2 separate regions of the Homo sapiens genome follow, and region 1 is linked to region 2. The links come from fine-mapping of genetic effects on gene expression. Tissue or cell type: whole blood. Region 2 holds a variant in brackets; the other region holds the start of a gene. All regions are shown on one strand. Distances are between the middles of the regions.

Region 1 (5,116 bases), 82 kb before region 2:
ATCATATGTTTAACTGGGGGAGCTGATAGGAATATATCATATAATAAAATACATATTTGGTGTTTGCCCCTGGTCCTTAGTAAAGAATTCCTAAAATCCTTGGAGTTTCTGGAAGATAGGCATGTCTTGTTAGTCACATGGAATCCCTCTGCACTGTACGATTACGGGGTCAGAACTTTTAGCCCATCGGGCCCCCTCCATCTCTGCCTCCATGGAGGTGTGAGGGACTAGACTTTGAGCCCAATCACATGGTCCATGTCTGTTTGTTATTGTTGTTTTGGGGGGATTTTTGTGTTTGTTTTTTCAAATGGCCAATGTCTTAATCAGTCATGCCTACAAAATAAACCTGTCAAAAATCACAACAAATTTAGTATAAGATCTAAGTTCGAGACCAGGCACGGTGGCTCACACCTGTAATCCCGGCACTTTGGGAGGCCGAGGCGGGTGGATCACGAGGTCAGGAGATCGAGACCATCCTGGCTAACACGGTGAAACCCTGTCTCTACTAAAAATATAAAAAATTAGCCGGGTGCAGTGGCGGGCACCTGTAGTCCCAGCTACTCGGGAAGCTGAGGCAGGAGAATGGCATGAACCCAGGAGGCGGAGCTTGCAGTGAGCGGAGATCACGCCACTGCACTCTAGCCTGGGCGACAGAGCAGAGCGAGACTGTCTCAAAAAAAAAAAAATCTAAGTTCGAGACCGGGCACGGTGGCTGACACCTGTAATTCCAGCACTTTGGGAGGCCGAGGCGGGTGGATCACCTGAGGTCGGGAGTTCAAGACCAACCTGACCAACATGGAGAATCCCGTCTCTACTAAAAATACAAAAATTAGCCGGGCTTGGTGGCAGGCGCCTGTAATCCCAGCTACTTGGGAGCTTGAGGCAGGAGAATTGCTTGAACCTGGGAGGCAGAGGTTGCAGTGAGCCGAGATCATGCCACTGCACTTCAGCCTGAGCAACAGAGTGAGACTAGATCTCAAAAAATAAAAGGCATTAATGGCTCAAGTCTATAATCTCAGCCCTTTGGGAAGCCAAGTTGGGAGGATTGCTTGAACCCTGGAGTCTGAGACCAGCCCTGGCAACATAGTGAGACACTATCTGTACAAAAAGAAAAAAAAAAATTAGTCGGGCATGGTGGCTCACACTTGTAGTCCCAACTAATATAGTCTGTTAATTAAAAGAGAACGAGGCCGGGCGTGGTGGCTCATGCCTGTAATCCCAGCATTTTGGGAAGCCGAGGTGGGCGGATCACCTGAGGTCAAGAGTTCGAGACCAGCCTGACCAACATAGAGAAACTCCATCTCTACTAAAAATACAAAATCAGCCAGGCGTGGTGGTGCATGCCTGTAATCCCAGCTACTCGGGAGGCTAAGGCAGGAGAATCGCTTGAACCCAGGAGTTGGAGGTTCCTGTGAGCTGAGATCGAGCCATTGCACTCCAGCCTGGGCAAGAAAAGCGAAACTCTGTCTCAAAAAAAAAAAAAAAAAAAAAAAAAAAAAAAAAAAAAGGCCGGGTGCAGTGGGTCACGCCTGTAATCCCAGCCCTTTGGGAGGCCGAGGCTGGAGGATCACTTATGGTCAGGAGTTCAACCAGGCTGGCCAACACGGGGCCAACATCAACACCATCTCTACTAAAAACACACACAAAAAAATTTGCTGGGCATGGTGGCACGCTCCTGTAATCCCAGCTTCTTGAAAGGCTGAGGCAGGAGAATTGCTTGAACCCAGGAGGTGGAGGTTGCAGTGAGCCGAGATCGCGCCATTGCACTCCAGCCTGGGCAATGAATCGAGACTCTGTCTCAAAAAAAAGAAAGAGTACGTGAACGAATCTATAAGAAACCTGGAGTAAATTATCTCATTTTCAGCTCTGAATCACACTACAGCTCAAGGCCCCAGGGTCCCCATGTATAAAGCCTTCCAGGAGCTAGGCGTGGTGCTGCGCACCTGTGGTTCCAGCTACTCGGGAGGCTAAGGTGGGAGGATCCCTTGAGCCCAGGAGCTCAAGCCTGCAGTGAGCTAGAATTGCTCCACTGCACTCCAGCCTCGGCAACATAGCGAGACCCTGTCTCAAAAAAAATTATTTTTAAACAAGTGAACTACTCAGAGGTCTGAGTGTTGTATTTGTCCCAACTCAGAGGGGGGCTCCGAGCCATCCAAAATTCAGCACAGTACCCGCGATGCCGCCTATTTGGACACCTACTCTGCCCAACCTACTCCAGCCCGCGTACCCCTGCAGCCCGTCGGGCGCCCAGGCCACGCCCCTGGGCGATATTGGCTCTCCGATTGGACAGCTTAATGGAGGTGTGGCCGGAAGAGGCGAGTCTCATTGGCAGAGGCGGGACCGACGGTGTGTGCGGAACATGGCGGAGCGCGGCAGGAAGCGGCCGTGCGGCCCGGTAAGTGCGGGCGGCGGGACCCCGTGCAGGGCAGCATGGTGGAGGCGTGAGAACCAGTGGCGTGGGGGCCTTCGCCGGGGCCGGGCCGCGCCTCCTGCTGCCTGCTTCCCGCTGATCCCAGGCCGGAAGCCCCCGAAGGTGCCGCGTGAGCCTCAGCAGGATGGGAACAGCGCCCGTGTCCTCTCCGGAACCCCCTGCGGCTCCCTGGCCCCCGCTGGATTACGGAGGCGGGACCCTGCTCGCCTCCGGATGCTGAATCCGGAGCCCTTTCGTGGCTTCTGGAGCCCTTTTCTGACTTCCAGGGCGACTGTGGGCAGTGCTGTACCCTGAGCCTCAGTTTTCTCTTCTGTTTTGTGGGAACTCATTCGACAGTTTCTTGAGTGCTTTCTGTGTGCCAGGCTGGGTCCCAGGCGCTGGGGATACAGCGGGTCCCTGCCCTCCTGCCGCTTTCTGGGGCAGCAGTTCGCAGAGGTTCCTTGGCTTCCTTGCCGCCCCGTGTGGAGGGGCTGGCTATGGTGCAGCAAACGGACCCCCTCCAGGTGTGACCATCAGCCTCACACTCATAATCCTCCTACCACTCCTTCTCCAGGGTGAACACGGCCAAAGGATTGAGTGGCGAAAATGGAAGCAACAGAGTAAGTAAGGGTGGGTAAGAGTATCTTCCCATAGGCCACTCCACCAGTGCTCAGTCAAACCCTGGAGAAAGACACCAACTTTGTTCCCTCTGGGTCCTGCAGCACACAAAGTGGGGAGGCAGGGGCCGGGAGCCCTGGGGAGGCTCCCTTGCTGCCCTCTGGCTGCTCACCCAGCAGCTCTCCAGAGTCCAGGCTGACCCAATGAGTGGGAACTGTCTCCTTGGCCAATTAGGATGTTCTTTTATCCAGAGAAAGAGGAGAAAAAAAAATGGAAGGATCTCAAGCTGATGAAAAAACTGGAGCGGCAGCGGGCACAGGAGGAACAGGCAAAGCGCCTGGAAGAGGAGGAGGCAGCGGCAGAGAAGGAGGACCGCGGTGAGCTGGGGTCTTGGGGAGGGCCACAGGTTGTGGCCCACGGTAGTTGTCCTGCAGGCAGAGCAGAGATGTCTTATCTGAAAGGGCCTTTACAGACCAGTAGGTCCAAACATCTTGTCCTGATGGAGAAACTGAGGCCCAGAGAAGGGAGGGAGCCAGCAAACTGAGTTCTGACCTCCTGCTTAGGTAAATTTCAAGCCTATGGAAGGCAAGCCTTATCTCTCTTTTTTTTTTTTTTTGAGATGGAGTCTTGCTCTGTTGCCCAGGCTGGAGTGCAACGGCGCCATCTCTGCTCACTGCAACCTCCACTGCCCAAGTTCAAGCAATTTTCCTCCCTCGGCCCCCCGAGTAGTTGGGATTACAGAAGTGTGCCACCACACCTGGCTAATTTTCGTATTTTTAGTAGAGACGTGGTTGCACCATGTTGGGGAGGCCGGTCTCGAACTCCTGACCTCAGGTGATCTGCCCACTTCAGCCTCCCAAAGTGCTGGGATTACAGGCATGAGCCACCGTGCCCGGCCCAAGCCTCATATCTCTTAACTTAGACCTCTAGAACTTCATGATCTTCCTGATTTTTTGACTTTTTTATTGAGCATTTTCTGTGTGCTTTAATTTCATTTTTCAATTATTTTGATTTCATAATAAAAATGAAAGAAAACTACAAAGAAGACAGGAACAATCCCAGCAAACATTGTAGCAAAAGCTTGTCCAAACAATTATAGCTACTTATCCATGTGTAGCAAAGTACAGATACAATGTTACAACAGTGAAACCATGTTATCTATGTGCTTCTTGGGCTTTTTTGTTTGTTTTTGAGACACAGTCTCGCTCTGTTGCCCAGGCTGGAGTGCAGTGGCTCGATCTCCGCTCACTGCAATCTCCACTTCCCAGTTCAATCGATTCTCCTGCCCCAGCCTCCGGAGTAGCTGGGATTACAGGCATGCGCCACCATGCCCAGCTAATTTTTGTATTTTTAGTAGAGACGGGGTTTCGCCATGTTGGCCAGGCTGGTCTTGAACTCCTGACCTCACTCAGGTGATCCGCCCGCCTTGGCCTCCCAAAGTGCTGGGATTACAGGCATGAGCCACCTTTTGTGTGACCTTGGGCCATGTATTTGACTTCCCGGGGCTGAAGGCCCCTGGTCTGTAAATGGGGATAATGGCAGTATCCTCACTAGGGATCAGGTTAATGGCTATCGGGTTAATGTGCACACACTAAAGACTTATTAGATATCAGCTTTCATTTTATCCCCATTTGATAGCTGGAGAACTGAGGCAGTAAGTGGGAGAGCCAGGATGTGAACTTAGGCCATTGCTACTAACCGCTCCACAGCCTCGCCCAGTGGTTTGCCCTGCTCAGAGGAGCCATGGAGACTGCTGGGAGACTGAGGCCCAGAGAGGGGAGCTGGATCTATTTTGCTCATCTCAAAATTCCTCCCACTTGGGAAATTCTCAAACCATGGGCGCTAGGGACAGAGGAAGGGAGAGAAAGGTAGGGGGCCCTTGCCTCTCACACTGGCTGGGAACATCCCTCCCCTGCTCAGGGCGGCCCTACACACTGAGCGTAGCCCTGCCGGGCTCCATCCTGGACAATGCTCAGTCGCCGGAGCTTCGCACCTACTTGGCCGGTCAGATTGCCAGAGCCTGTGCCATCTTCTGTGTGGATGAGATCGTGGTGTTTGATGAGGAGGGCCAGGATGCCAAGTAAGGGG
Region 2 (5,191 bases):
TCTGCTGGGGGATTTCTTACCAACAGCTGCTTTTAATATAAAAGTAATAAAAGCCTTTATTATAGAAAAGTTATAATTACAGATATACAGAAAATAAAAATCACCCATAAACCCACTACCCAGAGACAGGCACCATTAACATGGGATATCAATTGTGAATTTTAGCCTATGCACACATATTTTGTAAATGGGATACACAAACTGCATACTGTTTGTATATGGTGGATTTTTACTTCAACTGTGTTGTCACATGAATATGAACATCTCCCTTATCCGCCAACAATTTTTTTCTTTTTTGAGATGGAGTTTCACTCTTATTGCCCAGGCTGGAGTGCAATGGCACAATCTCGGGTCACTGCAACTTCCACCTCCCGGGTTCAAGTGATTCTCCTGTCTCAGCCTCCCGAGTAGCTGGGATTACAGGCATGCGCCACCATGCCCGGCTAATTTTGTATTTTTAGTAAAGATGGGATTTTACCATATTGGTCAGGCTGGTCTCGAACTCCTGACCTCAGGTGATCCACCTGCCTCAGCCTCCCAAAGTGCTGGGATTACAGATGTGAGCCACTGCGCCTGGCCAGCCAACAAATTTTTTTTTCAGATGGAGTCTTGCTCTGTTGCCCAAGCTGGAGAGCAGTGGCGGGTTCAAGTGATTCTCCTGCCTCAGCCTCCCAAGTAGCTGGGACTACAGGTGCATGCCACCACACCTGCCTAATTTATGTATTTTTAGTAGAGACGGGGTTTTGCCATGTTGGTCAGTCTGGTGTTGAACTCCTGACCTCAGGTGATCCACCTGCCTCAGCCTCCCAAAGTGCTGGGATTACAAGCATGTGCCACCACACCCAGCCAACATATTTATATAACAAAAACTTTTTTTCATTTCAGATGGGCAATATGCCAACGTCCTAACATGGTTTGAGGGAGGCACATTTCACACATGAGCATGAAGACCTAATCATCACTCTTATAAACTACGAAAGGATCAAACAATAATTTTTATTTATTTATTTTTTCGAGATGGAGTCTTACTCTGTCGCCCAGGCTGGAGTGCAGTGCACAATCTTGGCTCACTGCAATCTCTGCCTCCTGAGTTCAAGTGATCCTCCTGCCTCAGCCCCCCTAGTGGCTGGGACTACAGGCACGTGCCACCATGCCAGGCTAATATTTGTATTTTTAGTAGAGACAGGGTTTCGCCATGTTGGCCAGGCTGGTCTCGAACTCCTGAGCTCAGGTGATCCACCTGCCTCGGCCTCCCAAAGTGCTGGGATTACAGGCGTGAGCCACCGTGCTCAGCCACAATATATATATATATATTTTAATTAAGACAGGGTCTCAGGCTGGGCGTGGTGGCTCACGCCTGTAATCCCAGCACTTTGGGAGGCTGAGGCAGGCAGATCATGAGGTCAGGAGTTTGAGACCAGCCTGGCCAACATGGCGAAACCCCATCTCTACTAAAAAATACAAAAATTAGCTGGCCACGGTGGCTCACACCTGTAATCCCAGCACTTTGGGAGGCTGAGGCAGGCGGATCACCTGAAGTCAGGAGTTCGAGACCAGCCTGGCCAACGTGGTGAAACCCTGTCTCTACTAAAAATACACAAATTAGCTGGGCATGGTGGCAGGCGCCTGTAGTCCCAGCTACCTGGGAGGCTGAGGCAGGAGAATTGCTGGAACCCAGGAGGTAGAGGTTGCAGTGAGCTGAGATCAAGCCACCGAACTCCAGCCTGGGTGACAGAGGGAGACTCTGTCACAAAGAAAAACAAAAACAAATACACAGGGTCTCACTTTGTTGCCAAGGCTGGAGTATAGCGGCATGATCACAGCTCACTGTGGCCTCCACCTCTCAGGCTCAAGCAAGCCTCCCAACTCAGCCTCCCCAGTAGCTGGGACAACAAGGCATGTACCACCACACCCAACTAATTTTTTTTTTTTTTTTTTTGAGACAGAGTCTCGCTCTGTCACCCAGGCTGGAGTTAAGTGGCACGATCTCGGCTCACTGCAAGCTCCACCTCCCAGGTTCACGCTATTCTGCCTCAGCCTCCCGAGTAGCTGGGACTACAGGCGCCCGCCACCCTGCCACGCTAAGTTTTTGTATTTTTAGTGGAGACGGGGTTTCACTGTGTTAGCCAGGATGGTCTCAATCTCCTGACCTCATGATCCGCCTGCGTCGGCCTCCCAAAGTGCTGGGATTATAGGCATGAGCCACCATGCCC[G/A]GCCCACAGTCAGCTAATTTGTATTTGTGTGTGTCTGTGTGTATGTGGTGACGGGGTCTCGCTGTGTTGCCCTTGCTATCCCCTAGCTCAAGTGATCCTCCTGCCTTGGTTTCCCAAAGTGCTGGGATTATAAGCATGAGCCATTGCACTAGGCCCAAAAATTGTTTAATAATGTTTCTTTTCTGATTACAAAAGATATCTAATGCTTAAGCCAGGTGTGGTGGCCCTCACCTGTAATCTCAGCACTTTGGAGGGCCGAGGAAGGCAGATCACTTAAGATCAGGAGTTCCAGACCAGCCTGGCCAACATGGTGAAACCCTATCTCTACTAAAACTACAAAAATTAGCCGGGCATACTGGCGGGTGCCTGTAGTCCCAGCTACTCCACTCCGGAGGCTAAGGCAGGAGAATTGCTTAAACTCGGGAGGTGGAGATTTCAGTGAGCTGAGATCGTGCCACTGCACTCCAGTCTGGGTGACGAAGCAAGACTCTGTGTCAAAACAAAACCAAAAACAAAAAAAAGATACCTAAATGCTTAAAAGATGAAAAAATTCAAGTGATACAAGAATGTATTAAATAGAGCGAAAGCCACTTACAATCTCACCTCTCCTCCTCTAGATGCAGCTGGTGTTAAGGCTCACTTTCATGACTGCTGACACCAGCATATGTTCAGTGTCCTCATCCAGGGAGAGGCCACTGTGTGGAGGACTCTGCTGGAGCTTGGAGGGAGTGGCCAAGGTCAAGGCTCTGCCCAGTGTGTGAAACAGCCCCCAGGGCCAAATAATTTAGGTTGCTGTTTCATCTTTTGCTCTCTCAAGCAATGCTTTGTTAATTATACTTAATTAGTTATCCTTATAATACATTTCTGTAAGTAGAGTTGTAGAATTTCAGGGGCAGTATGTGTGTGTGTATATTTTTTCTTTTCTTTTTTTTTGAGACAGAGTCTCTGTTGCTCAGGCTGGAGTGTAGTGGTGTGATCTCGGCTCACTACAACCTCTACCTCCCAGGTTCAAGCGATTCTCCTGCCTCAGTGTCCTGAGTAGCTGGGACTACAGGAGCATGCCACCACGCCTGGCTAATTTTTGTATTTTTAATAGAGACAAGATTTCACCATGTTGGCCAGGCTGGTCTGGAACTCCTCCTAGCCTCAAGTGACCTGCCCACCTGCCCCTTCTCTACAAAAAAATTTTTTTAGGCCGGCGCAGTGGCTCATGCCTATAATCCCAGCACTTTGGGAGGCCAAGGTGGGTGGATCACCTGAGGTCAGGAATTCAAGACCAGCCTGGCCAACATGGTGAAACCCGGTCTCTACTTAAAATACAAAAATTAGCTGAGTGTGCCGGTGGGCACCTGTAATCCCAGCTACTCAGGAGGCTGAGGCAGGAGAATCTCTTGAACCCAGGAGGCAGAGGTTGCAGTGAGCCGAGATGGTACCATTGCACTCCAACCTGGGTGACGAGAGTGAAACTCTGTCTCAAAAAAAAAAAATTTTTTTTTAATTAGCTGGGTGTGGTGCTATGCGTCTGTAGCCCCAGCTACTCGGAGGCCGAGGTGGGATGATTGCTTGAGCCTGGGAAGTGGAGGCTGCAGTCAGTGAACTAAGATTCTACCACTGCACTCTAGCCTGGGCAACAGAGGAGACCCTGTCTTAAAAAAAAAAAAAAAAAAAAGGAAAAGAAGAGAGAAAAAGAAGACTAGTTGGAGACTCCCAAATGAATTAATAAATCTGTCACAGAAATGGAAATCAAAATAAGAGGAAGTCACATTTCATCTCAAGAGCTTGGTGATACCCAGTGTTGCAAAGATAGGGAAGAGCACCCTCACACCCTGTCTACTGGTAAGGGATGAATCGTGCAACCTTTGTGAAGGGCAACCAGCAGAACCTGCCAAAATTCTAAATGCATCTATCTTTTGACCTAGCCATTCTGCAATTAGAACTGTTCTTAGAGGAAAAAGATATATCCTCACTTGTAAAATTTTTTTGAAAAAGGCCGGGCACAGTGGCTCATGCCTGTAATCCTCACACTTTGGGAGGCTGAGGCAGATGGATCACTTGAGGCAAGGAGTTCTGGACCATCCTGGCCAACATGGCGAAACTCCATCTCTACCAAAAATACAAAAATTAGCCGGGCGTGGTGGTGTGTGCCTGTAATCCCAGCTACTAGGGAGGCTGAGGCAGGAGGATTGCTTGAACCCAGAAGGTAGAGGTTGCAGTGAACCAAGATGGTGCCAGTGCACTCCAGCCTGGGTGACAAAGTGAGACTCTGTCTCAAAAAATAAATAAATAAAATAAAATTTAAACTGAAAAAAAGGCGGGGTGTGATGGCACATACCCAGAAATCCCAGCCACCTTGGAAGCTGAGGTGTGAAAAATTTCTTGAGCCCAGGAGTTCGAGGCTGCAGTGAGCTATGATGGCACCACTGTACTCCAGGCTGGGCAACAGAGAGACCGCGTCTTAAAAATAAATAAAAGGCCAGGCAAGGTGGCTCACACCTATAATCCCAGCACTTTGGGAGGCTGAGGCGGGTGGATCATCTGAGGTCAGGAGTTCAAGACCAGCCTGGCCAACATGGTGAAACCCTGTCTCTACTAAAATACAAAAATTAGCCAGGCATGATGGTGGGTGCCTGTAATCCCAGCTACTTGGGAGGCTGAGACGGGAGAATCGCTTGCACTGGAAGGTGGTTGCAGCGAGCCAGGATCATGCCACTGCACTCCAGCCTGGGTGATAAGAGTAAATGAGACTCCATCTCAAAAAAAAAATTTTTTTTTAATTGGCCAGATGTGGTGATGTGCGCCTGTAGTCCCAGCTACTCAGGAGGCTGAAGTAGGAGGATTGCTTCAGCCCAGGATTTTGAGGCTGCAATGAGCTATGGTCCAGCCTGGGCAACAGAATCAGACACTGTCTCAAAAAAAAAAAAAAAAAAACCCAAACAAATCAATAAGCAAATAAACCTGCAGACAGTACAAAGAAAACT

What was found. PIP is the estimated chance that this variant, and not a neighbour inherited with it, causes the effect.
Region 1: it holds the start of SPOUT1, and the variant in region 2 is fine-mapped to the expression of SPOUT1 in whole blood (TOPMed, PIP 0.98).

The regions. Positions count from the first base shown.
Region 1 is chr9:128,827,024-128,832,139 of GRCh38, reverse strand. It overlaps SPOUT1 (SPOUT domain containing methyltransferase 1), which reads left to right and starts at 2,346. Exons shown (of 12, transcript NM_016390.4): 1 at 2,346-2,395; 2 at 2,985-3,030; 3 at 3,280-3,405; 4 at 4,949-5,108. The coding sequence starts at 2,360. KYAT1-SPOUT1 (KYAT1-SPOUT1 readthrough) reads left to right here. Exons shown (of 25, transcript NR_182311.1): 14 at 2,135-2,395; 15 at 2,985-3,030; 16 at 3,280-3,405; 17 at 4,949-5,108. RefSeq lists silencers at 1,395-1,618, 2,435-2,614 and enhancers at 2,095-2,154, 2,952-3,882.
Region 2 is chr9:128,745,150-128,750,340 of GRCh38, reverse strand. All of the region lies in intron 8 of ZER1 (zyg-11 related cell cycle regulator), which reads left to right. It overlaps LOC124902340 (small nucleolar RNA U13), which reads right to left and starts at 983; the gene lies at 880-983. The variant G/A (reference allele first, on the strand shown) is at 2,214.